Linked DNA regions of Homo sapiens. The protein of the gene in region 2 interacts with the protein of the main gene of each other region in a pairwise test. Each region holds a gene or a part of one and is shown on either strand. Other genes may lie near its edges. The genes, in order: PGM1 and NLRP3.

Region 1 (3,825 bases), about 180 Mb from region 2:
GCAATGGAAATAAGGGGGGCCAACATGACCTGAGGAAGACATAGAGAGAAGCTTTTCCATCACTTCCTCTAAACACAGATGCTTAGCTCCAAACCCGTACGTCTGACTGCCTACTTCCAGGTCTCCAAGGCTCCTCAAACTCCACAAATCCAAAAACAAACACATGTTATTTCCCCCAATACCTAGTTCCAGCAGTTTCTATTTCAGTGGATCAACACTACAGTCTTTCATGTAAAGTGAACAACTAGGAGTTGCTCCTGACATCTTCCTCTGCATTTTCCCCATGCCCAGTCCATGAGCAGGCCTCAATGACTTTTCCCCGCTAAATCTCTCTCCATGGCCCCCTTTTCTCTCCACTCTCCTGCTGTTAAGTCTTGCTAAGTCAATGTCCTGTCTCTTACCTGGAGCAGTGAGTGCCTCCACATCCACTTGTGCATCTTCCAATTTCTTTCCCACACTGTTCCCAATGGGACTGATGTGGTTTGGCTCTGTGTCCCCACTCAAATCTCATCTTGTAGCTCCCATAATTCCCAAGTGTTGTGGGAGGGACCCGGTGGGAGATGATTGAATCATGGGGGTGGGTCTTTTCTGTGCTGTTCTCATGATAGTGAATGGGTCTCATGAGATCTAATGGTTTTAAAAACAGGAGTTTCCCTGCACAATTTCTCTCTTTTGCCTGCTGCCATTCATGTAAGACATGACTTGCTCTTTCTTGCCTTCCACCATGATTGTGAGGCTTCCCCAGCCACGTGAAGTGTAAGTCCAATTAAACCTCTTTCTTTTGTAAATTGCCCAGTCTCAGGTATGTCTTTATCAGCAGTGTGAAAACAGACTAATACAGGAATCTTTTTTTTTTTTTTTTGAGATGGAGTTTCACTCTTGTTGCCCAGGCTGGAGTGCAATGCTGCGATCTTGGCTCACCACAATCTCTGGCTCCCAGGTTCAAGCAATTCTCCTGCCTCAGCCTCTCTAGTGACTGGGATTACAGGCATGCGCCACCACGCCCGGCTAATTTTGTATTTTTAGTAGAGATGGGGTTTCTCCATGTTGGTCAGGCTGGTCTTGAACTCCCGACCTCAGGTGATCTGCCTGCCTTGGCCTCCCAAAGTGTTGGGATTACAGGCGTGAGCCACCGCACCCGGCCTAATACAGGAATCTTTAAAAATGCAACAACCCCTCCCCACATCTACTTCTCGCTTAAAGAAAAAAAAAAAAAAGAGAGAATTCTGTTGCTTAATAAATGCTTTCAATATTAAAAAAAAAAAAAAACTACTAATCTGGTTGAACTGCCCATTTTACAGATGAGAAAACTGATACCCAAAGAGATGAAGTGATTTGACTAAATGACTCAATAGCAGAGCCAGGAGTAGTACATTTTCTACTGCTGAATGCTACTTTTTCTTATCTAAATCTCCACCGATCCATTATACCTGGAAAAGGAGAATCAACTCCACCTGCTGAAACTACCACATTTCCCCTTAGGGCTTGGGCAGTCCCCACAAAGTGCTGATGGCCTAGCAGCTGCAGAATAAGGAAAGGCAGCTCCCCGGCTAGATGGTGATACACCTGGGCATTGTGGGAACCTCACACCATCCACTGCCATTCCACCTGCTGAGGACTATGGTTCAGAGGAAACAAATTTCATTCACTCTTTGAATCTACCACGTGCCAGGCATTTATCTTGATGATCAAAAGACAAACACAATTTCCTTCTTCCTTTTCTCTTGTGCTATTAAGTGTCTATAATGCAGACCCCATTGCCTTTGGTTGAAGTTTTAGGGATGCCTACAACACAACAAGGTACTGGTGATGACTGAAACTGGGGCCTGGCCACTGGAAAAAATGTAAAAGTGAAGCATTCTCTCATCTCCCACTTTCTGTAATAAAAGCAACTATACTACTCATGTGAGGTACCTACAATGGTCAAATTCACAGACACAGGAAGGAGAAAGGTGGTACCAGGGATTGTGAAAAGGGAGAAGCAGGGAGGTGCTGTTCAATGGGTACAGAGTTTTAGTTTTGGGGGAAAAAAGTTTTAGAGATACGTTGGACAACAATATGAATATGTACAACATTACTAAACTATATACTTAAAAATGGTTATAATAGCATTATGTTACACTTAAAGTTAGACTAAAAAAACTAAGAGTGCTGCTTATTCTGAAAAGTTAATCCTATATGCCAGCCACAGTGTTTAAACATTTTACATTTATTATCTCCTTAAACCCCGGTAACAACTAGATGAAGTAGGTATTACTCTGCCATTTGACAGACAAGGAAACCAAGATTCATAAAATTGTAACAACTTACCCAGGGACACACAGTTATTAAGTGGCAGGAATAGAATTTAAAACAAGATCTCTTTAACTTTGCTCAAAACCACTATGCCAGGGGTTTCCAAATGAGTTTCACAGGATTTTAATTAGGTGTTAAAAGAAAAAAGCCTTTGTGGAAAAATAAGCATGGCAAATGCTATTTATTTTATTTTACTTTCAATTTTTTAATAAAAATTGTTTATGTTTAAGGTATATAATATGATGTCTTGATATACAAATACATAGTGAACTGATTACTAGAGTCAAGCCAACTAACATTATCAATCTTGTCACCTACTTACCTTTTTTGTTGTGGTGGTGATAGTGAGAACAATTAAGATCTATTCTCCTAGTACATTTCAAGTGTTATTCATTATAGCCATCATGTTGTACATTCCATCTCTAGAACTGCTACATCCTACATAACTGAAATTTTGTACCCTTTGGACCAATATCTCTCCATTTTCCCCATTCACTACCCCCTAGTAAGCCCCTTTCTGCTCTGTTTCTATGAGATTCACTTTTTTTAGATCCCACATACAAGTGAAATCATGCAGTATTTGCCTTTCTGTGTCTGGCTTATTTCACTTAGCATAATGTCCTCCAGGTTCATCCATGTTATTGCAAATGGCAAGATTGGCAAGATTTTGGTTTTTGTTGTTTTAAGGCAGAATAATTTTCCATTGTGGTATACACACACACACACACACACACACACACACACACACCACAATGTCTTCATTCATCTGTAGATGGGCACTTAGGCTGGTTCCATATCTTGACTATTGTGAATAATATTGAATGAACAAGAGAGAACAGATATCTCTTTGACATATTTATTTCAGTTCCTCTGAATATATACCCAGAAGAGGGATTACTGGATCGTATATTAGTACTAAAATATTTTTAACTTTTTGAGGAACCTCCATATTTTGGTTATTCCAAAATAGCTATACCAATTTATATTCCCACCAATAGTGTCTGATGGTTCCCTTTTCTCCACATCCTTCCCAACACTTGTTATCTTTTGTCTTTTTGAGAACAGCCATCCTAACAGGTGTGAGGTGACAGCTCATTGTGGTTTTGATTTTCATTTCCCTGATGATTAGTGATGTGGACCACCTTTTCATACGCCTGTTGGCCATTTGTATGTTTTCTTTGGAGAAATGTCCTTCAGCAAATGCTATGTAAACAGGCACCTTTACTGCAAGTCTTCTCAGCACCCTCTTTTTTTCTTTCCTTTTCTTTTTTTAGAGATGGGGTCTTGCTATGTCACCAGGCTGAAGCGCAGTGGGTATTCACAGGTGCAATCCCACTACTCATCGGCATGGGAGTTTTGACCTGCTCTGTTTCCAACTTGGGCCGGTTCACCCCTCCTTATGCAACCTGGTGGTTCCCCTCTCGGGAGGTACCATATTGATGCCAAACTTAGTGCAGACACCCGACAGGCATAGCACACTATAGCCCAGAACTCCTACGCTCAAGTGATCTTCCTGCCTCAGCTTCCTGA
Region 2 (3,825 bases):
AGAGAAGAACTTTTGAAGATTTTTGAACAAAGGGTCAATATTTTCAAATTTGCATCTTAAAAAGTTCCCTCTGGTGTAGTGATGAGTGGTAGAGGGAACCGAAAGCAGAGCATTTAGGACCGTCCCCCGTTTACTCACTCAGCAGCCTCCTGGAAAGCCCCACTATTCAATGAGGCAGGAGGAAGAGGGCAGGAGCAGGTCAGAGAACGGGGGTGGAAGGTGGGGTATGATAATTAAACCAATGTTGCAAATGCTCAGCATGTGTGACCCTTGAGCAGTATTGAGACAGGCAGTACACAATATGCAGCCAGAGATGAGGACCCAAAGTTCGAGAGAAAAAAATGTAGCTATACCTAACACATAGGCTATACCTAACACATAGGCTATACCTAACACGTAGGCTATACCTAACCCATAGGCTATACCTAACACACAGGCTATGCCTAACCCATAGGCTATACCTAACACACAGCCACATGTATGGCTGTACCTAACACATAAAATGCATAAAAGTCTCGACTGATTAATGCCACTTATAGATACCTATCTCAAAGCAAATACACATGCATAAAACTATATATACAAATGTGCTTTTTGCAGAGTTGTTTGTAATAGTGGAAAAGAACAGTTATCCCAAAATGCATGATTTGATTAAATAAATTATGGTAAAGCACACTATGGGATATTATGCCCCAATCGATAGATCTACACAAATCAGCATGGAAATTTATCCATGATAAATGAAAAAAGGATATCACAGAAAAATATTTATATTATGGTTCTAGTTTCAATAGATAGGGTGTTATGGATTGAATTGTTTCCTCTAAGACTTTATATGTGGAAGTCCTAGGCCCCAGTACTTCAGATTGTGACCTTATTTGGTGATACGGTTACTGAAAATGTAATTAGTTAAGATCAGGTCGTTACAAATCTAACATGACTTGTGTTCTTTCACAGGGAAACTTGGGACATGGAGAAAGACACACACAGACACAGGGAAGACACCACGTAGAGATAAAGGCAATGGTGTGGCAGAGGCATCTACAGGTCAAGGAATGGCAAAATGTGTCAGCAAGATGACATTCCACCAGAAGCCAAAGAGAAGCATGAACAGATTCCCCACAGCCCTCAGAAGGACCCAGCCTGCTAGCATCTTAATCTCACACTTCTGGCCTCCAGAACTGAGGGACAATAAATTTCTGTTGTTTAAGCTGCTCTGTTTGTGATACTTTATTACAGTAGCTCTAACAGACTAGGCATTTAAAATACTACATAACAATGTATTACAAATGCAACATGAAAATCACATAGGTCTTCATTCACATTACTGATATAAATACCACCCAGATCAGCATATACAGGAAATCCATTTGTCCATAATTAGCAACCAATATATGTTCACAAAGCTCTGATACTCCCTTGGATGGATTGATGGATGGATGGATGGATGGATGGATGGATGGATGGATGGATTGACGGATGGAAAATAGAGGGATGGATGATGGATGGATGGATGGATGGACAGATGAATGGATTATATAACAATCTATTGTATTAAAAAAAGTCTGGATGGTTGTTCATCAGACTATTGTAAATGGCTCTCTCAGAAGAGGGCTGAGAAGGAGCTTTCACTTTCCACTTTGTCTGTACTATGATATGTTTACACCAAGCATGTGTTACTTTTCTAATAAAAAGTTTGTGAATGATATCTGGGTTTGAGACCTACTGTTGTTGAAATTGAGAGGTATATGAGAATTCTCAGGGAGTTTAGAAATATTTAGTAACAACAACAACAAAAAAGGTAAACCAGGCGGGTGTGTGGCTCACGCCTGTAATCCCAACACTTTGGGAGGCCAAGGCAGGCAGATCACCTGAGGTCAGAAATTCGAGACCAGCCTGGCAAACATGGTGAAACCCCGTATCTACTAAAAATACAAAAATTAGCCAGGCATGGCAGTGCACACCTGTAGTCCCTGCTACTCAGAAGGCTGAGGCAGAAGAATTGTTGGAACCCGGGAGGCAGAGGTTGCAGTGAGCCAAGATTGCGCCACTGCATTTTAGCCTGGGTGACAGAGTAAGACTCCAACTCAAAAAAAAAAAAAAAAAAAAAAACACAACTAAACCAGTCGTGAAATCCCCAGACCACAGGAAGAGAAGCCAATGCAGGATCCAGGGAGGGGGAAGCTATAACATTAGCAGGAAAGACTAAGTAGTGACCTAAAAATAAGAGCGAAGAAGGCTTCCAAAGAGGAAGAGTGAAATGAATTAAAGGCAGCAGATGTCAACTAAAGTAAGGACTGGGAAGGACCTGTACGACCTATAAGGACCCAGCCTGCTGATGCCTCAGTCTCAGACTTTGGCCTCCTGAACTGAGAGGCAATAAACTCTTGTTGTTTAGGCCGCTCTGTTTGTGATACTTTATTACAGCAGCTCTACCAGGTTAGGTATTGACAATAGTAACTACATAGAGCATATTACAGATGCATCAGGCACATTTGTAATTGGCTTGTTTGTCATGTGGAATTTGGAACCAGGATCACTGAGAGTCACCTGAGTGCCTACGCCTGGGCCTCTTCGGTTCCATCTGCTTTGCCTGGAGGGCTCTTCCGGCTCCTTCACAGCCCATCCCACGCTTCACTGAGCACCTGCTCCAATGTCACCCGCTCGGAGAGGCACTCGCCAAACGTGAGCAGAGAAGCACCCCTCGCCGTCACTCCAGTTTTTCTTATAGCTCTTATACACAGGGTATATTGTTTAGCATGTCTATTATCTGTTATCACTTCCCTAAAAGAACGGTTGTGAAAACAGGATTTTGGTCTGTTTTACTCACTGCTGCTGTCAGTGCCCACCACAGAGCCCCCAGAGGGCCTGCAAAATGAAGGGACAAAATCATGTCTGTTGAACAAACTTAGAGAAGCAGAAGTCAAATTGCCAAGGAAGAGTAATATTCTAAGGCGATTTGCTAAGGAAGGGTAATACCCTAAGGCGAGGAAATGAAGGCACTGCAGGAAGACTTCATAGAAAGAGATATGGTCACATCTGAGGATTGGCTGATGGGAGAGGTCCAAGGAAGTATCAGAGCTTTGTGAACAGAGGTTGGTTGTTAATTATGGATTAGTGGATTACTCCTCTGGGAAGACCTTTCCTGCCAAATTTTGTCTTGAATGCTGATCTGGCTGGTATATATATTAATAATGTGAATGAATGAAGACCTATCCAATTTGCTTATTGTATTTGTAGATATTATTGTCAGAATGAAGATTCAAAACTGCCTAGTCAATGGGTCAAAAGACAGGTAAGATGAGGTTTAGCAAAGCTAAATTGGAGGTCCCACCCTTAAGCTGAGAGCCAGATGAAGAAGCCCTGTAGAGAGCCCATTAGCAACATCTCCTAAGGCAATGCACTGGGAATTAAGGCAGTGGCTTGGGAGGTCACAGACGTTTGTCTACACTGAGTTCCACTACCTTCTCTCTGAGTGTCCTTGGACAAAGTTATGAGGCTCCCTGAATTTTATTTTCTCCTCTTTAAATTGGAGACACAGATACCCTACCCTATAGCATCTTTCTGAAGCCAACTGAGAAAATCCATGTAAGAACATGAAAGAGCAGGTGATACAGGGAAAGTGATACAGGAAAGTGGTACAGGGAAAGTGCATGATTATTAGTGGGTATTCCCTACTACTGTTTACTGCAGAATTCCAACATGAATCAAAAGGCTTATGTAACTGCCAAAAAAAACAAGGAAATCAGAGATTCCACCAGTGAAACCATAGTTCTCTGCAACAGGAGGTAAAACATCCACCATGCATCATCAGGTCTGGGCACC

Evidence for each region.
Region 1: the proteins of NLRP3 (region 2) and PGM1 interact in a two-hybrid assay, tested with the Homo sapiens proteins (one large-scale study listed by BioGRID).

What each region holds. Positions count from the first base shown.
Region 1 is NC_000001.11:63,655,790-63,659,614, reverse strand, and holds part of PGM1 (phosphoglucomutase-1), read right to left. Parts: intron 30-3,825; coding exon 1-29. UniProt on the Homo sapiens protein: Catalyzes the reversible isomerization of alpha-D-glucose 1-phosphate to alpha-D-glucose 6-phosphate. The mechanism proceeds via the intermediate compound alpha-D-glucose 1,6-bisphosphate.
Region 2 is NC_000001.11:247,436,666-247,440,490, reverse strand, and holds part of NLRP3 (NACHT, LRR and PYD domains-containing protein 3), read right to left. Parts: intron 1,211-3,825; exon of another isoform or gene 958-1,210; intron 1-957. UniProt on the Homo sapiens protein: Sensor component of the NLRP3 inflammasome, which mediates inflammasome activation in response to defects in membrane integrity, leading to secretion of inflammatory cytokines IL1B and IL18 and pyroptosis.